Linked DNA regions of Homo sapiens. The protein of the gene in region 1 purifies or fractionates together with the protein of each later gene. This does not show direct contact. Each region holds a gene or a part of one and is shown on either strand. Other genes may lie near its edges.

Region 1 (3,447 bases):
GCCCAGCTCAGCCCTGCCAGGTCTGACGCCCTTTCTTGGCTCACCCCTAAGAGAGGAACAAATGCTTCGAGATGTCGTCCTTTGTGGAGACCAAGGCCATGGAGCAACTGACCAAGAGCCCCATGGAGTTTGTGGAGTATCCTTTGAAGGTGCTGTGGGCGGGCAGGCCAGGGTGGGGCGCTCGGAGGCCGGCTCCGGTGTTCTGTCCCCACATATGCCACCTGCACAGGGTGCTGGCCCTCCGGCGGCCCTCCTGCACCCTGGCCTGGGGCTTGGGCAGATCCAGGCAGTCTCAGGGGGCATGGCTAGGCTAAGAAACAGAGGCCGGGTGTGGGGGTCACAGGAGCACCTGGCTGAGGCCGGAGGTGGAGGCTGATGGGGTGGGCCCTGGCACCTGTGTGGCCCCTGACCACCAATCTCAGATACAACAAGCAGCAGCTCAGCCGCATCTACCCCAAGGGCACCCGCGTGGACTCCTCCAACTACATGCCCCAGCTCTTCTGGAACGTAGGGTGCCAGCTTGTTGCGCTCAACTTCCAGACCCTCGGTGAGCCCTGGCCCCCTCCATCTTGACCCCGACCCTCAGTCTTACTGACTTCTGACCCACGATCCTGCTGGTCTTGCCTGAATGGACCTCTGACCCTGTCTCATCCCAGATCCCAGGGGAACCCAGCTCCCGACTCACCCCGCCTCCTGCCCTTGGCTGATACCAGACCCCTCCCCTGTCTGATCTGTCCTGGATCCGGACCCTGATGCCATTTGAGCCCGCCCCTGACCCTGGACCTTGGATGCCATCTGACCTGATGATCTCCCATTCCCCACATGGCACCGTCCTGCCTGATCCCTGCCCCTGCTCGACGTGCCCGTGGCACCCCAGATGTGGCGATGCAGCTCAACGCGGGCGTTTTTGAGTACAACGGGCGCAGCGGGTACCTGCTCAAGCCGGAGTTCATGCGGCGGCCGGACAAGTCCTTCGACCCCTTCACTGAGGTCATCGTGGATGGCATCGTGGCCAATGCCTTGCGGGTCAAGGTGGGGCTTGCGGGCGGCTCAGGCCAGGGGTGTCCTGGGGGCAGGACTCTCAGCATCCGCCTCACCCTCCTTGGCCCACCCCCAGGTGATCTCAGGGCAGTTCCTGTCCGACAGGAAGGTGGGCATCTACGTGGAGGTGGACATGTTTGGCCTCCCTGTTGATACGCGGCGCAAGTACCGCACCCGGACCTCTCAGGGGAACTCGTTCAACCCCGTGTGGGACGAAGAGCCCTTCGACTTCCCCAAGGTGAGCCTGGCCCCTGCACCCGCCCAGGCACAGGCAGATCCAGCCCAGACCGCCCCGACTCTCAGGTGGGAGAACAGGAACCAGGCACACCGTTGGCGACTGGGGATCAGAAAGTGGGGGGTGCCATGGGTCCCCCAGGACCTGCCTGTCCGAGCGTCAGTCTCCCTGCCCTCCTTAGGGTAAGAGACCAGGGTGAGAAGGTGAGATGGGGGTTGGGGGGTGTCAGCTAGACGTCTTGTGTCCCCTGCGAGGAGTGGACACAGCCTACCCTGTCTCCGAGGCAGGAGCTGAGGTCACAACCCCAAGCTCATATCCGCTCTTCAGCACCCCGCACGGCCCTGCATGGACGCGGCCTCTGCTCCCAGCCTGGGCATGTGTGTTCTTGGTTTCCTGCTCATGACTCACTCCCGTTTCTAAACTGGCAATGACCAGAACTGTCTGTGGGGGCCCTGGAGGGGCCTGGCTGCCTGTCATCTTGCCTCAGGGTCCTGATGGCTGCAGTCATCCATTAGGCCAGGACATGGAAGTGGGGTCAGCCATCAGCTTAGTGGCAATGGTGACTGATGGTCAGTAGGTCAGCTCGTCTGAAGGTCTGCTTTGTTAAGCTTTGATGGCTGTGGTTAGCTGTGGCCTGGTAGCCACAGTGGCCCAGGGTCAGCCCTGTGGCTCAGCTCCAGTCTGGCCCACAGGTGGTGCTGCCCACGCTGGCTTCACTTCGCATTGCAGCCTTTGAGGAGGGGGGTAAATTCGTAGGGCACCGGATCCTGCCTGTCTCTGCCATCCGCTCCGGTGAGGCCTTGGTGGGCTCTGGGCAGCACAGCGGGCAGTGGGTAGGGCCCCCACCTGGCCCAGCAACCCAACGTTGCCTTCCTGACCACCCAGGATACCACTACGTCTGCCTGCGGAACGAGGCCAACCAACCGCTGTGCCTGCCGGCCCTGCTCATCTACACCGAAGCCTCGGACTACATTCCTGACGACCACCAGGGTGAGCTGGGGGTGGGCGGGGCCTGCCTGGCCAGGGAGTGTGAGGGACAAGGGCCACCCCCAGGGCCTGGGAGTGGCCGAGCTGGATGGCCCCGACTGAGTAGGGAACTGAGTAGGGAACAGATCTGAGGACAAGCTCTGGAATTCCTCATTGAGACCAGAGGTGGCGGGTGGGGGTGGCCTGGGGGCTCTGTCTCTGAGACCTTGGCCTTCTGCCTCCCCCCAGACTATGCGGAGGCCCTGATCAACCCCATTAAGCACGTCAGCCTGATGGACCAGAGGGCCCGGCAGCTGGCCGCCCTCATTGGGGAGAGTGAGGTGAGCCGGGGCAGGGCAGGGCTCAGGCTCACTGTGACCCAGGGGGCCGCTGGACATGACTGCTGTGGCCACATGAGGAGGGGGCTTCTGGTCTCTCTAGCGCAGTAGGCTTGGCAGCCCTGGGATTTTGAGGAGATGAAAACCACCCATTTGCATTCAGGAGGCCTTCAGGTCACACCTGGGCTGGAATTCCTCCAGCTCCATGTAGGCTTGGAGTGGGGGTACAGGGGTCTCAGCCACTTCATCAGGGCAGTGCGAAGCCACAGAAGCTGTTCAGACGTGGTGTCCTGGGAGTCATGAGGAGGGCAGTGGCTTCCGTGGGGAGGGGTCAGGCACGGAGGTTCACCTGCGCTTCCAGATCCAGTCCCCCCAGGGCCTGCGGCAGGCGGGCGGGGAGAGATGACTGCAATTAGGGCTGCCTGGAGCTGTTAGCGGAGAGGCTGGTGCCCACTCTGCGGTTGAGTCCTCTGTTGATTTAATCAGGAGCTCAGCAGCAAGGAAAATGAGCGACTGTAGGCAAGGCTGGGGGACACAGGCAGGGGAGGAGAGGAGGCTTGGGGCTGGGCCAGGCCTTTCCAGAACAATCTGGGAGTTACTGAGCACATGCAGTGGGCTGGCATTATGTTATCTTCCCCACAGCCCATGTGGAAAAGGGGTTTAGAAAGGCTTGATTTATAGCTCTTCTCATGCAGACAGCCTCCTGTTACAGAGCAGTCCAGCAGTGGCTTGGACTAAGGGAGGCTGACAGGGGTGCTAGGGGACCCAGGAGGTGGTAGAGGACAGAAGGGTCTGGAGGGAACAGCATTTCTGAAAAGAGCATTCTCCTTTCTCCCTATAGGCTCAGGCTGGCCAAGAGACGTGCCA
Region 2 (3,500 bases), on another chromosome or scaffold:
TTAAAAAATTATCTTTTTGACAGACCTAGTTCCTTTTCAGCTTGAATTATAGATGACACTTCACTTTTTGTGTGATTAAGAAAGCAGAAGGTTTTCTGTGACCTCACCAGTAGCGGACCAAAACCATATTAAATTCTGATTTGACTTAAAGATTGATCTTTCAGATTTAAATATGGGGATGGGTGTGTTAAACCACTTAAGAACTATTTTACATCCTCGATAATAAAACTCTAATTTAGAAATATACCATAATGGCCGGGTGCGGTGGCTCACGCGCATAATCCCACACTTTGAGAGGCCAAGGCAGGTGGATCCTTTGATCCCAGGAGTTTGAGACCAGCCTGGGCAACTTGGCAAAACCTCATCTCTACAAAAAATAGAAAAATGAGGCAGGCATAATGGTACACATTTGTGGTTTCACCTACTCAAAAGGCTGAGGTGGGAGAATCACCTGAGACCAGGAGGTCGAGGCTGCAGTGAGCCATGATTGTGCCACTGCACTCCAGCCTGGGTAACAGAGTGAGACGCTATCTCCAAAAAAAATAATAATAATAAAATAAAAATAAAACAAACAACAAAAAAAAGGAGAAGAAAATAAATATACCATAATGTTGAAATATAAAAATATAGGGGGTTCTTTCTAAATGCCAAACTTCTTAGTTTGCAGAAAGAAAGGGCATGTTTCCATGCAATAAGTTTATAAAGCAAATAGCATGTTCAAGTACAAAAGACTCTTTCATGAACTGCGGATGAACCTTCTGAGTGCTGGACATAATCTCAAGATTTAAAGTTGGTTTACTTAATATATCTTCTAGAATACAATCTTTAGGAAAATGTTTTGGCATCCCATTCATAATTCTCTGTCTAGTCTAAACCATAGATACTTATTGCTAATGTCATATAAAGCTGTGTGTGTGTGTGTGTGTGTGCACGTGCACATACATGTGCCTGTTTGCACATACCTTGTACAAAAGTGCTACTTTGCAGGAGGGAGTAGAACAAATCACATAATTCAATTCTTTGTTGCATGACCCTGGGTGCTTGGCTTAGTCCAATTCAGGTCATAGGCTGAAAACAAACTACTAGTCCCAGCCCAATTTTGAGGATGTCCAAGAGGCAGACTGTTTTTATCCCAGATAACCAAAGAAAAGCATGTAAGGATCTGGAACAGATACTAATTGTGAGAACGGTAGCTTAAGCCTAGAAGATACCGCTGTACTGGTTGATTTCTTTTTTCTTTCTTCCTTCCTCTTCCCTCCCCATGGTTGATTTTAAGCTGTTTCTTAGCTGCAAAGTGAGGAATTTTCTAAGAATTATGTTAAAATCAGAATCAATTAAAGAATCCATATAGTACCTGCAAGTAATTTTTTTCTGAATATAGTTACCCCCTGAATTAGGGATGTACTCTTAAATACGGAGTCTATTATGCACTAATTAACAAGAACCTTCAGAAATCTTTAAGAGGAAAACATGTTCCATGAATTTTGTCCTTGGGTAGCCAGTGAGAGAAATCCAGGAATAAGTATCTCCTTCTTCATTAATGCTGATGCTTTTCTGAGAGATAGCATTGAAAAGAAATCTAACTTCACTACCAAATGTTGTGTTCTCTTTCAGTAAATTTTTATTTTTCTATTTTTATTCTCACAAAAGTGTTTTATCTTATAATTATATTTTAATTCTAAACTATAGAGATGACCAATTTAGATGGAATTAGAAGAAAAAATAGTTTGATAACCTTAAAAAAACTACCAGTAATTTATGTTATATATTTTGCTAGCAAAATACTTTCGTGTGTACATTCACTAAATCTTCAGCATTATTTTACTTGGCTTTAGAAGAGTTAACAGCTAATAATAGCTAACCTTTATTGATTGCTTGCTGTGTGCCCAGCAGGATGCATAGCACTTTGTGTCCATCATCTTACTTAATCTTCCAGTGGTTCTATGAAGTGGGTACTATTATTACGCCAGTTTACAGATGGGAAAATGAGAAATGAGAGTTTAAGTAACTTGTCCAAGATCACAAAACTAGTAAGTGGCAGAACCAGGATCTGAACCAGGATCTGAATTTGTTCTCTTAACTATTACAGCATGTCTCATTTTTTAGAGATCTATTTTTAAAAATTCTATCTAGCCACACCAAACAATCTTTAGGAAACAAAGGTTTCTTCTCTTTTTCTGAGGGGGAGCAAGAACCCGTATACTTGCTCAATTATTAATGAAATCTAAGTTGGAAGGGTTTTTTTTTTTTTCACTTTCAAAGTTGTTAACTATTTGTGTTTCCTCAACATTCAGATAATAACCCAGAATGTCTTGGTGATACTATTCCAGTTCCTCAAATTTCTTTTAAGAATAGTATATTCTTTTACCTTCCCCCTCATTTTGATAACTCTTTCTGCTTGAATAGTATTCTTGCTCTTCCCGTATAAGAATTTTCAGTTTAAATTAAGTCTGAATTAAAGTAGATGAATTTTATTATCTTCAAAAGAGCAGAACTGATTATTTGGATACAAAGTGTTCAAAATCTGTTTTGTGATGCTTTTATACTTAAATATTTAAGCCAAATGTCAGTTAGTGTAAATTAGCAGTATGTTATATTAAGTATTGAGCTTCAAAACTATAGCTATTGTTGCCGTGTATTTAACTTTGGTAATACCTAGCGTTATTTAGAAAAAAAGAAATATTGGTGAGTGGTCTCATTTCTCATGATTTATTTTATTACTGGTACATTAGAATTTACAGTACTGATTTTTTTCCTATGCGTTATTTGGTACTTATTTATTTTCATGTATTTTTTTTATATCGTAGGCTCGTTATCGGAAAGAGCAAACATTGCTTAAGCAACTGCCTTGCATTCCATTGGTAGAAAATTTGTTGAAGGATGGGACAGATGGCTGTGCATTAGCTGCCCTTATTCATTTTTACTGTCCTGATGTTGTCAGATTAGAGGGTAAGTGTTCCATTGTAATACTTCTGAACTGTAGACAGATAGTAACCAATATTTAAGACAGTATTATTTTGCACTCCAGCCTAGGTGACTGAGTGGGACCCTGTCTCAAAAAAAAGACAATATTATTTAATAAGTACTGAAGACTTTTTTTTAAAAATAAAGAACATTTATATATAATTCTGAGGGAGGTAGTTCAAAAAAAAATAGTGCTCGGTTTCTAAGTCTTAATGTATAATGACTACTATATTTATAAATGTATGTTTGTTAACCAGAATTGTGTATTTGTACTAATTACAAGATGGATATGAAATATTTATTATCAAATTAATCCAAAGTCACCACCTTGCTCTTTTCTTATTTGAAGATATTTGTTTGAAAGAAACTATGTCTTTGGCTGATAGCCTGTATAATCTGCAGCTGATTCAAGAATTTTGCCAAGAATACTTGAACCAGTGTTGCCATTTCACTCTGGAAGATATGCTCTATGCTGCTTCATCCATAAAGGTAAATTAAATTATTCTTTTTTTCCCTTTGCTTTGTTAAAATATGTT
Region 3 (4,002 bases), on another chromosome or scaffold:
AATGTTGAGAATTTTACCTCCAGACAAAAGAGAATTATAACTTGTGGCCGGGTGTCTTAAAAAGAATTTGTTAAAAAAATTACAATAGTTTTTTTCCATAGGAAGTTACCAAAAAATATGTACAAGGAGGTCCTATGTGCCATTCACCCCTCCTTCCCCAATGTTAACATCTCTTACAGTACATTGACATTGATACACCCATAGCACTTGTTCAGGTTTCACCAGTTATAATAAATGCACTTGACTTAGCTAGTACCATTGTGCAATTTATGTTTGGATAAACTCAGTCTTCATGGCAGTCTGCAAACATGGCAAAGGGCAGGCTTTGGAGCCAGACAAATCTAGGATATGCCAGGTGCTTTACCATATGACTTTCATATAATATCTTCTTCAGTCTTCACAACAACCCTGTATCAGTTGATAGATTATGAGTGTTTTCAGCCGCAAGAACCATAATGCCAGAATAGTAATTGTTTAAGCAAGTAGGGCTGGTACCATGGCTCAGGGACACCATCAAAGATGCAGGCTCCCTTTCTTCTGCTCTGTATATTCATGGGAGTTTGTGTGTCTTTAGTGCTATAAAAGTGTATTACATATGTAGCTTTATGTAATCAAGATACAGAATTGTTCCATCACCACAGGCTCCCTCATGCTCCCCCTACATAGCTACACCTACCCTCACCCTGGGTGGGTGGCTTTTGACCAGTCAGGCTGTTTTGAGTGGCAACCACTTTCCCTCCCTTCCTCCTGCCCAGGCCCTGAGCCCATACTGACTCAGCCCTACTGGTATCGTGTTGACATTGTTTGCTGGTGAATGATCTGGAATGAGCCTTTCTATCCTAGGCCCAGTGGCTGGTGAATCAGAATTGAGTCTCTGGGACTGTTGTGCCCACAAAATTATAGCACAAACCCTCTGACCCAGAAGAACCCCCTCAGATGACCAAGTCCACAGGACTGAGCTTCCTCCCCACTCCTCCTTCTTAACTGCCGTTTCTCGTCTAAATTCCATCCATTCGCCCTTGTCTGCCACTCTGCCTACCCCCCCCCCCCCCCAATTCCTGGACCTTGTCTCCTTTTCTGCCCCTTGTTGCCCAACCTCTAACTGGGCTCCCACTTCGAGACGCTCCTTAGACTTGCTGTCACCCACCAGAGTTATTACTCTAGTGCTGATAATGCCTCTGTGCCCCCTGGCTGCTCTCACTTCTACTGTCTGCCTTTTCCTTCCGGGGACTCTTTTTTGAAAGGATATTTCTAGTTCTTTTGTTGAGTGTCCATGAGAGGTAATATGTTTTAAAGTCTGTCCAACAGAGGCTTTTTTTGGTTCGCTGATAATGGTTTATTTAACTAGATAAAGACGTGTAGGCTCACACTGAGGCTCCTTAGCACTCTGAAGGACTTCATTGTGTCCCAGCAACTGCTGTTGCTGATGCGAAGCGTCTCGTTGGTCTGATTCATGTTCTTCTCTAGATCTGGCTTTTCTCTCTGATTTTCTCTGTACCTGCCTCAGCACCAGGACACAGGCAGCTGCTTTGTTTCCAACCTTTGTTCAAGAGCAAGAAGCACAGTTGTGGCTCACACCTCCCATTCTATAGTGTCTAGTGGGTCAGAATCGAGCCTCAGGAGATGCAGGTGCCCACAGATTTCCAGCATTTCAACACTGTCACAAGGGGTGGATTATTTTATTATCTTGGTCCAGACTCAGTGAGGTTTTTCCATCTGAAGACTCTCATCCTGTTCTCTGTTTTTTGGTTTTAGAACTCCTGTTAGATATACCCTATACATACTTGATGGCTCTTGACTTTCCTTTGAGACTTTTTTTTTAATCTCCATCTCTCTGTGCCGTATTCTGTATTCAGGGAAATTTCTTTAAGTCTCTCTTTTTAAAAATAATGTACTGAGGTGAAATTCATACAACATAAAATTGAACTTTTTTTTTTCTTTTGAGACAGAGTTTCACTCTTGTTGCCCAGGCTGGAGTGCAATGGTGTGATCTTGGCTCACCACAACCTCCACCTCCTGGGTTCAAGAGATTCTCCTGCCTCAGCCTCCCAAGTAGCTGGGATTACAGGCATGCGCCATCAAGCCTGGCTAATTTTTTGTATTTTTAGTAGAGACAGGGTTTCTCCATGTTGGTCAGGCTGGTCTCAAACTCCTGACCTCAGATGATCCACCTGCCTCAGCCTCCCCCAAACTTGAACATTTTAAATAAACATTTTGCTGCATTTTTCCCATTCACAATGTCATGCACCCACCACCTCCAGAAAAAAAATTAAAAATTAGCTGGGCATGGTGGCATGCACCTGTAATCCTAGCTGCTTGGGAGGTCAAGGGAGGAGGATCACTTGAGCCCAGGAGATTGAGGCTACAGTGAGTATGATTGCACCACTGCCCTCCAGCCTGGGCAACAGAGCAGAACTCTGTCTCTTAAATAAAAAAATATATGTAATAATAATAAGAGTGTAGTTACATGTGTTGATCTTTGTTGAGGTTGAGGACAAAGGCAAAATATTGATGGCAAAGACATTAACATTCAGATATATCCTAGCAAAAATGAAAGCTTTTAAAAATTATATTATGAAAAATTAATAGTTTTCTTTCTTCCTTAGTGTTATGAACTGGCGCTAGGAGCAAAGAATAATAATGTATGTTACAAGTTTTGTTGAATCTACTTCCATTTGTTCACACCTCCCATGATTCTTCATACTTTTTTTTTTCTTTTTAAGTTGGAGCCTCACTCTGTCGCCCAGGCTGGAGTGCAGTGGCATGATCTCAGCTCACTGCAACTTCTGCCTCCCGAGTTCAAGTGATTCTTCTGCCTCAGCCTCCCTAGTAGCAGGGACTACAGGCACATGCCGCCCCACCCAGCTAATTTTTGTTGTTGTTGTTGTTGTTGTATTTTAGTAGAGACGGGGTTTCACCATGTTGTCCAGGCCGGTCTCGAACTTCTGAGCTCAGGCAATCCACCTGCCTTGGCTCCCAAAGTGCTAGGACTATAGGCGTGAGCCACCACACCCTGCCGATTCTTCATACTTATTACCATTCCTAGCAAGCTTAGCTGTTCATTGCCTAACTTTTTTTCATTAGCTAAGACTATATAAATTGGGGAGCTCAGTGAATAAGGTTTGAAATTAAAAATGCCTAACCTTGCACATTCTGTCATCTTCTTTTACAAGATCATTCCCAGTGACCCCTTCTGGGTGCCAACTACTGAGGAGGAATACTTGCACTTTGGGGAGAAGGCTGACTCTGAGAACCAAGCCCGGAAGTACATGAACGCAGTACGAAAGCGGAAGGGGCTTTATGTGGAAGAAAAGATTGTGGAGCATGCAGAAAAGCAGAGGACACTCAGCAAAAATAAGTAGCTACCTACTACTGGTGGATTCTTTTCCTTATAGTGAATTTAAAAGTATCATCAAGGGTTTAATATTGGGAAAATTTCTTTTTGCCACATTATCTCTGTTTATTCACTTTCAATAAAGTTGATCCATATAAATATTTTAAAGAGGATGTTAGAGAACATGTTTTCCAAGTGTGTTTTTAATTGGTTCTGGTTCAAGGCAAGAAGTTATAAATATTGCAGTGATGATTTATGACTGCCCTGTGTATAACCCCCAGCAGTAAGACGTGTGGTCAGGGCTACCCTCTTGGTGGTGGGGAGGTGATGTGCAGACCCACAGTGGGCAGTCTCCTCTGCACTGAGCGGCCACTCCGGGGCTCACACTGTCTCTGCCTGTCATCACAGTGTCATAATTCTGAGTACATCCTCCACATAAACATCATGTGTGAATTTCGGAGTGGAAACATTTCATATTTAATCAGTGAATCAGAGCATTTAACATTGTTTGGAGAGACCGCATACTTGAGAGAGCAGCTGCTTTTTAGTTAAACCAAGTCACTGTTACAGCTCATCCATCTTATGGTGTTGTCTAGCAAAACAGTATCATGTTCAATAGTTAGCCTGTAAATCTTCTGCTTTTACACCCACTCATAAATTTTATCATT
Region 4 (3,500 bases), on another chromosome or scaffold:
CTTTTTTGTCCTACTTAATTTTTATGGTTTAGAAAATTTTCTCCCCTTTAGTTTTACTGATTTGTTTACCATATGGATTGTCTTCAGTGATGGTGATTGGCTAAATTAGGTTGAAAATGATAGTGAACATGTATTGAGAGCTCATTGTATGGCAAGCATTACTCTGTGCTCTTTTTTCTTTTCTTTTTTTTTTTTTTGAGATGGAGTTTCACTCTTGTTGTCCAGGCTGGAGTGCAGTGGCGCGATCTTGGCTCACTGCAACCTCCGCCTCCTGAGTTCAGGCAATTCTCCTGCCTCAGTCTCCCAAGTAGCCGGGATTACAGGTGCGCACCACCACACCCTGCTAATTTTGTATTTTTAGTAGAGACGGGGTTTCTCCATGTTGGTCAGGCTGGTCTCGAACTCCCGACCTCAGGCGATCCGCCTGCCTTGGCCTTCCAAAGTGCTGGGATTACAGGTGTGAGCCACTGTGCCTGGCCTTGCTCTGTGTTTTTTAGGTGAATTAGTTGGCTTTATCATTCACACAACCCTCTAAGGGCAGATACTGTCACCATCTCCATTTTTCCAGATGAGGAAAAGGAAGCAAGGAGAAGTACTTGAACTGAGGTTACGGAGCTGTTAACTGGCTGAGCTGAGATTTGAGTCTAGGTAGCTCTGTTCCTTAGCATTATGTTTTCATGATTCTTACTTGTTCATCTCTATATTTAGTCTCTCTGGCTTACAGTTTCATTCTCCTCCCATCCTCTTTGGAGACTGTACCTATATCATTCTGTGATTTTGGGGCAGTGTAGAATCCCTAAAAGTAAATTATGTCATGCTATAGACTCTGTAAAGAAGTATATTTAGATCTTGGACTAGAAATTGAAAAACTAGAATTGCTTTAAATTAAATGTAGAATATTTGGTTTTTTAAAAACATGAAACAGTTTCTTGCTTTGTTAATAGATCTTAGATATGTGTGCAGCACCTGGCTCAAAGACCACACAGTTAATTGAAATGCTACATGCCGACATGAATGTCCCCTTTCCAGGTATGCATTGGACTTGTGTTCAAAATGGTAGGAATGCCACTTTGGCAGATTGTAGACAAGGAAAAGACTCTAACTTTGCCTGCTAATTTGGCTCTAAAGTCTCCTATGACAAGCAGTTGGGTTTTCCGTCTACCGGAAGTAGAACTGGACATCTTGCCTACCACCGTCAGTAGTACTCAAACAAACACACTCATACCATGGGGGAGCTTTATTTTAGAATTATGTGTGTTTTCTATAAAAACGAATGGCATTTCTTTTTTTTTTTTTTGAGATGGAGTCTCACTCTGTTGCCCAGGCTGGAGTGCAGTGGCGTGATGTTGGCTCACTGCAAGTTCCACCTCCTGGGTTCACGCCATTCTCCTGCCTCAGCCTCTCGAGTAGCTGGGACTACAGGTGCCCGCCACCATGCCCGGGTAATTTTTTGTATTTTTAGTAGAGACGGGGTTTCACCATGTTAGCCAGGATGGTCTCGATCTCCTGACCTCGTGATCCGCCCGCCTTGGCCTCCCAAAGTGCTGGGATTACAGGTGTGAGCCACCACGCCCGGCTGCAGATGGTGTTTCTTTATCAAGCCTACTTACAGAAGATAGATTTCACTGTTTGAATTTTTAGTAACAATTTCCCCTTTCCCCCACCTTTGTTCATTATTATTACTATTATTATTATTATTATTACTTACTGCCTTACATGAAGGGTAGTAGTGTGTAGTTAAAAGCTACCATCAGACTCCCTGGGTTCAAATCCTAATCGGCAAGTTACTTACAGTGTTAGACATCCCATGTGAAATGGGACGAATCAGTATGTAGCTTGCGAGGTGCTCAGGAAATGTTAGCTGTTATAGTGACACCACGCCCCTTTCTCTTAAGTGGAAACAAATACCCATCGTGATGTTTTAGAGTCAGCTTTCATCTCGTCCTATCTTTGTTCAGGCAAACTTCTCTAGTTCTGTTTTAATAGGCATATTTGTTAGGTCTGTTTTTTGAAATCCTCTTTTTTACATTGTTTAAAGATAATGCCTTGGCTAAAAAGCCTGCTTCACTTTTCCCTGTTTTTAGTTGTTTTCTCCACATTGGCAGTAAAGAGCCTTGGCGTCCCAGTAGCAGCAGGTTCTCCTTTTTGTATTGTGGATGTTTTGCATTTCATACTGTTGTGAAGAGTGGCTTTGATCATACATGTTGTTGGTATATTTGCCTTTTTGCTGGGGGTGTGAGAAGAACCAGAGATGAGCAGAGGTACACCCAGTAGACTTCCCAGCCTGCAGAGCCTCCCGGGAAGAGCTTCCGTGTTCAGGTGCTTGGGGCCCCACCCTAGGAGCCTGACTCACAGTCAGAGCAGGGTCCCGGCTTGTGTTCAGGATTTTGAAACATTTGTAAGGTGATTTTGTTGTTTCTACACCTTTCTCCTCATCTTTTTTTTTTGTAGTTAATCGTTACTAATAACAGAAAAGACATTTTTGGCATGGTAATTGGCACAAAGTGAATAATTGTTGAATAGATGACTTTTGAGGCTTTCAAAATTCGAGTGTCCATAAAATCCATCCAGAGCCACCTGGTTCCTTTTTTTGAACCACTTAACGTAATTCTGGAAAACCTTGACTGTGGGTCTTAAGTTTGGTGGATTGCTGCTTCTCACTGGCTGACCTTTGGAGGTCGCATATTTCAGGATGTGATTCCACTTAGGCTCCATTTCACCTGACACTGCAATTCTGTGCCTTCAGAGGGATTTGTTATTGCGAATGATGTGGACAACAAGCGCTGCTACCTGCTCGTCCATCAAGCCAAGAGGCTGAGCAGCCCCTGCATCATGGTGGTCAACCATGATGCCTCCAGCATACCCAGGCTCCAGATAGATGTGGACGGCAGGAAAGAGATCCTCTTCTATGATCGAATTTTATGTGATGTCCCTTGCAGGTATTTATCTTATTGGCCAAAAAGCCCAAATCCACTAAAGAAATCAAGTCAAATAGAGACTAAAATGAAGTTGTGCATGAATATGACACAATTGTACATAAGTCTTGGGGTGCGGAGAAAGATAGCGTGAGCCTAAACCAAAAGATGGACACGTAGATACGTCTTAATGAGAAGCAGCACAGCAGATGCTGGATAAAGAACAGAAAGGGGTGGTTGCAATAGCCTGCAGAAAGATAAAGAGAAAACAAAACAAAACAGAGAAAATACGTAAGAGGAAAATAGAATCGTAGACTCTTATTGTGGTGTGTTTTAGGATGTTATTGCTTGGAACAATTTGTGCACCCCAACTATTTTGTATTAGTTCTTCCAGTGAGTACAGTATATAAAAAACTTTGTCATAAAATAATACGTAATCACATTGGATTTTATGTTATTTAGTTGAATGAAAGAAATTTCGGAGTTCAAGCCCTTAAGAAATTCATTTTGCTTGTGTTTTTATACCTTTCTTGAGATAATACATCAACATTTTAGATATTTAGAGTTTAGATATAAAATAATACT
Region 5 (3,500 bases), on another chromosome or scaffold:
GGCTTAGATAACAGAAGCCAGAAGTTACTTATAAAGAAAGCTTAATTTCGTTACATAGTATGGCAAAACCTAAGCGGAGATTTAAAGACACAACATCCTAATAGAAGTTAACTTGGTTCCATTGAAAACCCTCTTACGATCACAAGTGCTAACTTCCTTTCTAAAGGGTTGGAATAGGTTTGCACTCCTACCATCCGCAGTCTGCTCTTTCCTGGTTGTACGTTTCACTGATTCCCAAGTTCTGTTCAGGCAGAGAAGAAAAAAAAGTCATTAGTGCTACAGAAGAGAATTTTCTTAGGTTTTCTCTGTACAACCAGAACTTCTTAAATGCAATGCATGCAAATGTACTCATGATACTGGTCAAGAAGACCACAGCAATAAACGTCTGCATTAAAGAAGCTAATTCTGCTTTCCTATAGCTTCTGAAAATTAACAACGAAAACTCTTGCCACCCTACACCTCACCTTCTGGGTGCCCCCGAAACAGAAAGCCTGCTAAGCATGTGAGCTGCCGCTTTCTCAGAAAACTTTAGTTTGGATCCTATGTCTCTGGGCAAGGAGCACAGCCAGTGACAGATTAATAAGCAGGTAATGCAAATGAAGCCATAGGAAAAGACTCACCCCGTCTCTAGGAACAAAAGCTACTATGGACAACGTGAACTATTGAGATTTTCATATCATTTTGATTTTTAAAATATGTGACCTAAAACACACAATTTAAGAAGGTAGAACCTTCCCATTTATTAATGGAAGAATTATTAAATGTAGGCAAGTGCCCCTACTTTGCATGTGTGAGATCTTATCTAGAAAAAGTGGGCTGAGTAACAGCACAGTCCTGCTCTCTTGTATGGCTTTATTCCTGGTTAGCTATTGGTTTCTGACTGTTACCCAACTCAGCTTTTGGGTAACATCTGTGCTATTCTACTTTCTGGCCTTGGAACATGGGGCACAGTTGTACAGGAAACCCAGTTACTGACACAATTATGCAGTTTAAAGGGGCGAGGCATAAAAGGAACATTCTCCCTTCACTCTCTTCTCCCTACAACAGAAAAAAGCAGTGGTAAGAGACCAGAGTGGAGAAGCAAACAATTTTAGGATCTCTTTTAAAGGAAGTGAAACATGTGGGTGGCTCTGGGGCTTGGGATAAAAAGGAGTTACCACCTGCATCTCGATAGTAAGAGCTGCAAGATATCCTCCTCGGAACCCTCCTGCTCATGCTTCCTATCCGGCTGTCCTTAAAATTTGGACCTTGTCATATTTTCATTAAAATTGTTCAAATATTTAATTTGCTTTTTAAAAAACAAAACAAAAAGACTGTCTGGAAATTGTAGGTCTTTCAGCATTGTACCCAAATTCCGAAGGCCAAATATGTCAAAATGAACACAGGAAAATCAAACAGACTTCTATGACAACTCACAGCAGCCCAACATTCCTGTTAGTAGCAAGGAGCTGACCAACAAGCAATGCTGGTAAGTAAATCATACAGATTGCAAGAGATGAACACCTTTTGGCATAGCTCTCTCTGCTGCCTCCTAAGGTTAGTCCTAAAGACTGAAGAAGACAGTGCTGGGAAAAGCACTGAAGGTCCCATCCCAAACACTAGGAATAAGGGAAACAAAAAGAGGAGCATCATTATCGTGGTTAAGGTGAAGGAAACAAGCAGTAACGAGCCATAAATCACCAGCAATAAAACAGAAACGCATTGATAAGAAATCTCGGAATAAGATTGCCCAGTGAGAGCTCCAACAACTTCAAAGGGCCTGTGAGATGCACAGCTGACTGGAAGTCAGCTCTTCGTCTCTACTTGCCCGCCAGCTAAGCCCAGAGCTCCAGCCTCCCTGAGGCTCTTCCCTCCTTTGTAAAAAGCAGGAATGAGTATGTTTTCTCCAAAACCTCTTCTAGCTTTAGGATTCTGCTTCCAGTGAGATCATCCTATTCCTAGTCTTCTTTGTTATGGAAAAGCCTGTTGGCCTTCCTCCCTCTAGTTCACCAACACAAGAGGCGGGAGGGTCAGAGGGTGACTTCGGCACTGTCTTGAATGTCAATAGACACAACACTACTGGAATATTTTTATATTTCTAAAATTAACCCCACATCCCCTTTCATGAATGAGACGGTGGAACATAGGATTCTCTAGCTGCTATTTTATCTCTTAGACTCGGCCCTTCATATCCGTGGGTTCTGCATTCATGGATTCAACCAACCACCCATTGAAAATATTTAGGAAAAAAATTGCATCTATACTGAACAGGTCCACACTTTTTCTTGCCATTATTCCCTAAACAATAGAGTACGACTGTTGACACAGCATTTGCATTGTATTAGGTGCTGTGATTACTCTAGAGATGAAGTGCGTGGGAGGATGTGCATAGGTTAGAGGCAAATACATACTGAGTATCTGCATTTTCATATCAGGGACTTCAGCATCTGTGGATTTTGGTATCTGCAGGGGGTCCTGGAACCAACCCCGACAGACACCAAGTGACAGCTGTACAGGTTGAGTATTCCTTACCCGAAACGAGGGGCCGGAAGTGTTTCAGAGTTTGGTTTTTCAGATTTTGAAATATTTGCCTTACCCTCTGGGTGTCATGCAGGCCTTTTTGACATTTTGAACAGTATCTTTACCCCACAGAGCAGGAAATAAGCCAAAGAACCCCACAATGAGTCATGCACATAGGTCTCAGCCCTGTGTAGGGTGTTGTGGGGAACTGCTGCTGGGCATCCGGTCTGCACACATGCCATTTCATGACCCTCTGTGGGAGTACCTGCAGAGGGAAGTCGCCGTGTGCGTGCAAAGGATATATCGGGCCGGGTGTGGTGGCTCACGCCTGAAACCCCAGCACTTTGGGAGGCCAAGGTAGGAGGACTGCTTGAGTTCAGGGGTTCGAGACCAGCCTGGGCAACATAGTGAGACTCTGTCTCTACTAAAAAAATAAAAATTAAATAAATTTAAAAAAAAAGGATATGGCCGGATGCGGTGGCTCACGACTGTAGTCCTAGCACTTTGGGAGGCCAAGGTGGGTGGATCACCTGAGGTCAGGAGTTTCAGACCATCCTGGCCAACAACACTGCCTCTACTAAAAATACAAAAATCAGCCAGGCCCAGTGGCATGCACCTCTAGTCCCAGCTACTCGAGTGGCTGAGATAGAATTGCTAGAACCAGGGAGGTAGAGGTTGCAGTGAGCTGAGACCACACCATTGCACTCTAGCCTGGGCAACAGAACAAGACTCTGTCTCAGGGTAAAAAAAAAAAAAAAGAAGGATATAGCTGAGCTGAAGGGGAGGGTTCCTTTTCCCCTGGGGGGACACTGAATGTCTGTGTTGTATGCCTGTGTTCTGACTGCAGCCTGTCACACAGAGTCAGGTGTGGAATTCTCCAGCTGGGGCATCATGTTGGCAATGAAAAGGTTTTGGATTTTGCAGCATTTTGAATTTCAGATTTTCAGATTAGGGCTGCTCAACCTGTACACGCAGGCTTTTATATCAGGTCAGAGATAACA
Region 6 (3,500 bases), on another chromosome or scaffold:
TGGGCGTGCTCTGTTAGGACCTCAGTGAAGAGGGTTTTGAATTGGGGGCAGGGGATGGCACAGAGAGCATGGATTGTAAAGGGACCAGGTCATGTGGGAGTGGGAGGGGTGTGGGGGCACGAAGGGGGCACTGAGTTCAGTCAAACTCAGTCCACTGAACCACTTTCTTTAAGCCCAGTCAGGCTCAGAGGTCATGTCACAGAGGGAAGGTGGAAGGCACTAATGCTTGTGTAGCATGTGCTTTGTGCATGCCACGAAATGTTCCCCACTGTGTCTCTGACACCTGGAACTCTCCCTGGCTCATGAGAGGACACATCATGAACTGTGTCATTTTACATACAATATATTACTCATTCTTACGTTGACGTGAGTCATTTCTATTTCTGGCCTATCATTAAGCACTTTGACTTCCTCAGAACCTCAACTCTGATAAATGACAGGACTCGATTAGATCTGAATCTAGCTTTACTACAGTCAAAGGCTAGGCTGCCATTTCTGATCTTCAAACCTTTTCACCCTACTGGAATGACAACATATGAAGCAGATGAATTTGGAGCTCCACTGGGTGAAGGTGAGACAGGAGTGAGAGAAGGACCAGTCCCAGTCCTGCACCCTCCTTGGTCTCCAGCTCGCCTAACACACCGCACAGTGAAGAAACTGCGAGGTCCCAGGGTCCTGCACTCTGGCCTTCGCTGTGTTTCCCAGAGAATTCACTGGGGAGGGATTAAAATTACGCTCCATAAACCATGTCCTCAGTCCTCTGACTGCCTCTGTAAGACAGGGAATATCAGTTTTAAAAAGCGAAGTCACTCCAAGGCTACATGAGATGAAGTTACTGACTCATGGTTAATCAGAAAGGCAGTTACTGAGAAGTGGACATTGAGTCTTCTCCCCATCCTTTTTAAAGCATCGTTTCCCTTGCCAGCAATTGATGTGCATAAGCCATGTTCCTAATACTGTCTCTTATTTTGGGGGTTTAAAATAACATATTTTAATGTATTTGGTTAAGTACAGGCTGGGGTCACTGTTGCTTTATAATCGGAAAAAATGAGACCCAGTGGAAATCTATGTCTTCAAATTGCTCCACCTAGTGTGTGCCTGTGGGTTGTGTGAGTTTTTGGGTTCATGTATGCCCAAAACTCAGGTAACACAGAAGCAAACATGAGCTCTTCCTTTTGAAAAAGGAATCTCTCTAAAGCATCTTTAATTTCAAACAGTTTTTAAACAGAAGCTAACAGAGTAAATAATTTAAAATCGAATTAACTTAATCTTTAGTCCAATTTAATAAAGGACTGCATTTATTTATGACTAGATTTAAAGAGAACACATCTAGGAGTATGAAGCAAGAACAGGTCTTTGGAAGTTTTAAAACTCCAAAGCACAGGCCTGGTTACGAGATAGTTTGTTGATGTAAACAGAATTCACTTCACTGAGATGCCTCTTCTGTGCTTTTGCTTCTCAAGTGTGTTTTCAGGCAGCTCATCTGTGAAAAATAACGGGTGCTTCCCTCGCTCCTGTGCTTGGGAGCTCTTTAGCCTTTTAGAGAATCTAATTTTGTTTGTTTTTTTCTTGATGAAGACAATGAATCCTTAACTAAGGTTAATAACAGAGTGGGAGCAGGTTCTGGCCATGTGCCAGGCAATCATAAGCAGCAATTCTGAACGGCTTCCCGATATCAACATCTACCAGCTGAAGGTGCTCGACTGCGCCATGGATGCCTGCATCAACCTCGGCCTGTTGGAGGAAGCCTTGTTCTATGGTACTCGGACCATGGAGCCATACAGGCAAGTCCCAGGGAGAGGGCTGACATAAGGGCTAGGACGTCTTCACGTTGGGCAAAGGATCCATGTTGTGAAGTCATTCTGATTACTACTTTGCATGGAGCATTTCCAGCTGCTTCTCAACCATTGTTTAAAACCAAGTCTTATTTTATTCACTCCTCTTGTTCATTCACTTATGCATTCATTCATCATTTGTAAAGTTCCTTCCATGTGTCAGACACCGTGGGTGTACAGAAACTAATTAGATGCTGTCTCTATCTGGAGCAGATGATTACAATACGATGTGGCGCTTGCAGTGACAAAGACGGGCTCAGGGTGGTGGGGGAGCTGTAGAGGAACGCAGGCTCAGACCTAGCTTGAGAGGCTGTGTCATGAGCCTCTGCTGGTCCAGGTGAGGATGGCCATATGGGGCCCTTGGTCTGGCTGACAGTAAGAATGGTCCTTTATCTCTCTCAGGATTTATGCTTTCAGTTGAATCATTTGCCTTCATAATCACCTTGTGAGCCAGGGAGGACAGCAGGGAGACGGCCCTGCCTCAGCTTCTCCTTGAGTCAGGTGAAGGAACTATAGGTAATTGCTTCTTGACTGATCTCAGCTCCTGGAGACCAGTAGGTGTTTTGCCCTGAGATGTTTTTATAACTCAGAAAAGCATTGAAGGGGGTAGTGTTGAACTGCTGAGAGTTAGGCGCTGGTGGATGCTGCACCCTGATTTGCAGTCGGCTGAGAACATAATTCTAGAAGGTGAGACGGAGAGCAGCCCAAGGGGAAGGGCACGGAGACATGTGGACCATAATCTGAGGTGGGAATGGCTCAGTCTCTAGCACAGAACAAGGTTGCTGGCGGGAAGGTACCTCGAAAGCACCTGTGACCAGGAGCGATGGCAGAGGGAGGAGGTCCCTGGAGAACAGGGGCTCCAACCTGGGCAGATCTTTAATTTCCCAGCTTTGCAGACTGTGCAAATACCATGTCAGCCCAAAGGGGCAACGTAGGACAACAGGCAGGGAATGGCTGTAAGCGAAGAGGAGCAGGTGGAAACGTGAGAGTCCAGGGTACTTCCTGTTCCCGCTAGAGGGAGAGGAATTTCCCAGGGTCAACATAAGAACAGAAGTGAGTCCAGGGTCTAGGATATTTGTTTGGACAAAGGTAGTAAACCAGAAATGAGGTGTTTGGTCAGGAAGCCAGGCGTGAGCCAGGAGCTTGGTGCAGTCCACAAGGACCCCGAAGACGGCAGAGGCTCCACCAGCCAGGCGGATGGCAGAGGTCCCTGGCCAGCCAGTGCCACCAGCCTGACCCTGAGCATGTTTTCGGGACTTCTGTAGATGGTTTCCTCCACTGCCTGTGGGTGAACAGCTTTGGAATCCAGACTGTGAGTCAGCTTTAATCAAATGTATGAGGGATTGGCTTGAGGGCTGAGACTGTAGACTTTCCCATGAGCAGTGAAATGCCTGCTCAGAGTGATCGATCTTGTGGGTTCTCGGAAAATACGAATCGCATTCAAAGAGATAAGGCTTCCTCTCTGAGCCTTAGTGTTGCAAAAAGAGGCAGGTCAGATGGTTGGCGTTACCTCTCTGAACTCCAGGGCTTGCTCTGAGGAAGCCAAACAGCCTCTGGGTGAGTGGATAAACTCCATCCAAAAGATGCAGACTGAAAAATACCCTTCTTTCTCCAGGCCCCCAACAGCAGCTGCTGGTTCCTCACTCTTGGCTAGCGCTGCACTGA
Region 7 (3,500 bases), on another chromosome or scaffold:
ACTTAAAGATCTGTCTTAGAGACTGTTTTATAACCGTATTTAAGGAGATGATTTATTATTTTTTATAAGCCACATAGTATTCTACCATATAGATGTACTAAAATTTATTACAGCATTCATTACCTTTATGTTTCATATATGTATTACATTATGTTTCATATACAGCATTGACTGCATTTTTTTTGTCATTTTAAACAATGCTACAATGAATAGCCTTGTGTATATATCAGTTTGCAGTAGGAGTATGTACGTGAAATAACTTATGGAAGTGAAATTACTGCATCAATGGGAGTAGAAAGGTATTTTAAATATATTTGTAACACAAGCATTAAAACACAAGAAATTCTGGTTTAGAAGTTCTTAGACGCAGCTGCTTGTTAGAAGTACCTAGGGGGCTTGTAAAGAATAATGATACTCAGGCCACATATCTAGACCAATTAAATTAGAATCGCTGGGATTTAGGCATCAGTACTCTTTAAAGCTTCCCAGGAGATTCCAGTATGCACACCATGATGACAATCACTACTCTAGTTAAATGCTACTTACTATTTACTTTAATATGTAATTTAATATTTAATTTAATTACTATTTAATATGTTATAAATTTAACCTGAGACCTGGGTTATTTAGCTTATAAAGTGTCTTAGGATTGTAGCTTCATGTATGTATCATGGACACTAAATTAAAGACAACCTCATGACAGTGTTAGAAATTCTATCATTTTTCAAAAGTAGTGACAATTTACCTTCATTTTCTACATTTCTTCTCTTCTCATTTTCCTGTTCAGCTTTTCTTTGGTACTCATTAATTCTATGCTGTAGCAACATTTTCTCCTTCTCAATCTGAGACACTGTAGATTCTAGATTTCTTCTTTGATTTCCCTGGAATTATAATGATAAAAGTTACCACTGTGATTAATACTCTGGTCATTCATTCAAGTGAGTATTTTGTTCTTAAAAACAAAAAACAAGAAAAAAAAAAAGACAAACACTTAAGATGAATGTTCTGTTTCAAACGCAAATAGTATCTCCTAATACAACTTTCTAAGTAGCTTGCCTTTTAAGAAGACAGTGGGAATCTGTCTTCTGTAGCTGGGACTACAGGGACGCACCACTGCGTCCAGCTAATTTTTCTATTTTTGGTAGAGACGGCTTTTGCCATGTTGGCCAGGCTGGTTTTGAACTCTTGACCTCAGGTGATCCGCCTGCCTCAGCCTCCCAAAGTACTGGGATAACAGGCATGAGCTACTGTGCCCAGCCTAAAATACCCAAATTTTCACAACTTAAAAATGTACCTTTCTGAGTTACCACTATCAGTAAATCTTGTTTTTGATGCTTCACTTTTTAAGACTCCACATTAGGAAACCTGTTTTACAGTGTTTCTGGGCTTTCTCATCTTTAAGCAGAAATTGGACATAAATCATTCAAGGTCTTTCTGATTCTAAGAGTTTATCATTCTAACTTTTAGTTAATTTTTAGATAATTATACATTCAAAGAAAGTTGCAAAGATAGTACAGAGAGGTCCCAAGTGCCCTTCCACTCAGCTTCCCCCAGTAGAGACATTATATATAACAATAGTACAATAACAAAATCAGAAAATTCTCACTGGTATAAGGAGTGTATGATTCTCTCATTTTATCACATATGTAGGTTCATGTAAGCACCACCACAACGAAGATACAGAACTGGTCATCACAACAATTTCTTTCCAGTCACTAGTTATAGCCACACCCATCCCCGTCCTCCCACCACCCATACTCCTGGCAACTAATGGTTCTCCATTTCTATAATTTTGTCTTTTTGAGAATGTTATATAAATGGAACCATGCAATATATGACTTTTTGAGACAGGCTTTTTTTTTTTTTTTTTTTTGTATTTTTAATAGAGATGGGGTTTCACCATGTTGGCCAGGATGGTCTCGATTTCCTGACCTCGTGATCCGCCCGCCTCAGCCTCCCAAAGTGCTGGGATTACAGGCGTGAGTCACCGCGCCTGGCCAAGACAGGTTTTTTTTTTTTTTAACTCAACATAAAGACCTTAAAATCCATCTCTGTATTGTATGTATCTACAGTTTATTCCTTCTTGTGGCTGAGTATTCCATGGTACAAATGTACCGAAGTTTGTTCAACCATTCACCTACTGTAGGACATTTTGATTGTTTTCAGTTTTTGGCTATTACAAATAGAGCTGTTATAAACATTAGTATACAGGTTTTTGTGAGAATATACATTTTCATTTTTCTGGAATACATGCCCAAGAATACAATTGCTAGGTCACATAGTAGGCACATGTTTAGTTTTTCAGGAACACAGCCAATTGGTTTTCCAGAATGTCTGTACCATTTTATATCCCCATCTGCAATGTCCAAGTGATCTAGTTTCTCCATATCCTTGCCAGTTTGCTATTGACATAATTTTAAAACTTACTTTTTTTCATGGTTATGGAGTAATATTTCATGATAGTTTTAATTTGCACTTCCCAAATGACTAATTATGTGAACCTCTTTTCATAGGTTTATTTTCATCCATATATCTAAAAAGTTTAAAAAGTATGGATTCGCTTTCCTTAACACTTATATAGGGCTACTGAAATTACCTATTTCACACTGTATGAGTTGTGATAGTTTGATTTTTGAGAAGTTAGTCCCTTTCATCTACATGTCTTAATTGTGTTTAGAACTGTTCATAGGATTTCCTTATGATTCTTTTGATACCTATATGGTCTATAGTATATGCCCTATTTCATTCCTCATACTGGTAATTTGTGTCCTCTCTTTTTCCTTTATCAGTCTTGCTAGAGGTTTGTTAATTTTGTTGATCTTTTCACACAGCTTTTTGTTTCACTGATTTTCTCTATTGTTTTTCTGCTTTTAACTGCCTTGTTCTCTGCTCTTATCGTTACTTGTCCTTCCTTTTGCTTGTTTTGGGTTTATTTCACTCTTCTTATTCTAGTTTCCAGAAGTAGGAGTTTAAATTATTGATTTTAGACTTTTCCTCTTTTCTAAGGTAAGCATTTAGTGCTATAAATTAACCTTCATCACCATGTTAACAGCATCTCACAAATTTTGATGATGTATTTTCACTTCATTGTTCAAATATTTTGTAAAGATAAAGAGCCATAACAGTTTTATGAGACATAATTAACATTCCAATGTATTTTTTTCACTGAGACTTCTTCTTTGACCTCTGGGTTATTTAGAAGTTTATTGTTTGCTTTCCATGTGTTTGCAGATTTTTCTGTTATTCTCATCTGTACATTTTGGTCAGGAAACTGTATGATTTCAGTGCTTTCAAATGTGTTTGTTTTATAGCTTGGGATGTGGTCTACCTTGGTGTGTGTTCCTTAAGCACTTGAAAAGAAGGCATATTGTGCTGTTAAGCAGAGGGTTCTGTAAATGTTGAACAAATTCTGACAGCTGACAGTGTAGTTGAGTTCTCCTATGTTTGGTGATTCTTACGGGTGCTGAAGTCTCCAACAATAATTATGGATTGGTCTATTT

The links.
Region 2: the proteins of PLCB3 (region 1) and CAMSAP2 fractionate together in Homo sapiens (co-fractionation; one large-scale study listed by BioGRID). This does not show direct contact.
Region 3: the proteins of PLCB3 (region 1) and EFL1 fractionate together in Homo sapiens (co-fractionation; one large-scale study listed by BioGRID). This does not show direct contact.
Region 4: the proteins of PLCB3 (region 1) and NSUN2 fractionate together in Homo sapiens (co-fractionation; one large-scale study listed by BioGRID). This does not show direct contact.
Region 5: the proteins of PLCB3 (region 1) and NUDT5 fractionate together in Homo sapiens (co-fractionation; one large-scale study listed by BioGRID). This does not show direct contact.
Region 6: the proteins of PLCB3 (region 1) and SMYD3 fractionate together in Homo sapiens (co-fractionation; one large-scale study listed by BioGRID). This does not show direct contact.
Region 7: the proteins of PLCB3 (region 1) and ROCK1 fractionate together in Homo sapiens (co-fractionation; one large-scale study listed by BioGRID). This does not show direct contact.

The regions. Positions count from the first base shown.
Region 1 is NC_000011.10:64,261,530-64,264,976, forward strand, and holds part of PLCB3 (1-phosphatidylinositol 4,5-bisphosphate phosphodiesterase beta-3), read left to right. Parts: intron 1-51; coding exon 52-136; intron 137-422; coding exon 423-547; intron 548-656; coding exon of another isoform or gene 657-730; exon of another isoform or gene 731-837; intron 838-877; coding exon 878-1,032; intron 1,033-1,117; coding exon 1,118-1,279; intron 1,280-1,968; coding exon 1,969-2,068; intron 2,069-2,161; coding exon 2,162-2,266; intron 2,267-2,491; coding exon 2,492-2,583; intron 2,584-3,421; coding exon 3,422-3,447. UniProt on the Homo sapiens protein: Catalyzes the production of the second messenger molecules diacylglycerol (DAG) and inositol 1,4,5-trisphosphate (IP3).
Region 2 is NC_000001.11:200,829,393-200,832,892, forward strand, and holds part of CAMSAP2 (calmodulin-regulated spectrin-associated protein 2), read left to right. Parts: intron 1-2,807; coding exon 2,808-2,949; intron 2,950-3,313; coding exon 3,314-3,453; intron 3,454-3,500. UniProt on the Homo sapiens protein: Key microtubule-organizing protein that specifically binds the minus-end of non-centrosomal microtubules and regulates their dynamics and organization.
Region 3 is NC_000015.10:82,129,733-82,133,734, reverse strand, and holds the end of EFL1 (elongation factor-like GTPase 1), read left to right. Parts: intron 1-3,173; coding exon 3,174-3,362; 3' UTR 3,363-3,502; downstream 3,503-4,002. UniProt on the Homo sapiens protein: GTPase involved in the biogenesis of the 60S ribosomal subunit and translational activation of ribosomes.
Region 4 is NC_000005.10:6,619,545-6,623,044, reverse strand, and holds part of NSUN2 (RNA cytosine C(5)-methyltransferase NSUN2), read left to right. Parts: intron 1-944; coding exon 945-1,029; intron 1,030-2,746; coding exon 2,747-2,939; intron 2,940-3,500. UniProt on the Homo sapiens protein: RNA cytosine C(5)-methyltransferase that methylates cytosine to 5-methylcytosine (m5C) in various RNAs, such as tRNAs, mRNAs and some long non-coding RNAs (lncRNAs).
Region 5 is NC_000010.11:12,178,892-12,182,391, forward strand, and holds part of NUDT5 (ADP-sugar pyrophosphatase), read right to left. Parts: intron 1,599-3,500; exon of another isoform or gene 1,504-1,598; intron 242-1,503; coding exon 192-241; intron 1-191. UniProt on the Homo sapiens protein: Enzyme that can either act as an ADP-sugar pyrophosphatase in absence of diphosphate or catalyze the synthesis of ATP in presence of diphosphate.
Region 6 is NC_000001.11:245,856,780-245,860,279, reverse strand, and holds part of SMYD3 (histone-lysine N-methyltransferase SMYD3), read left to right. Parts: intron 1-1,609; coding exon 1,610-1,784; intron 1,785-3,500. UniProt on the Homo sapiens protein: Histone methyltransferase. Specifically methylates 'Lys-4' of histone H3, inducing di- and tri-methylation, but not monomethylation. Also methylates 'Lys-5' of histone H4.
Region 7 is NC_000018.10:21,007,314-21,010,813, forward strand, and holds part of ROCK1 (rho-associated protein kinase 1), read right to left. Parts: intron 882-3,500; coding exon 746-881; intron 1-745. UniProt on the Homo sapiens protein: Protein kinase which is a key regulator of the actin cytoskeleton and cell polarity.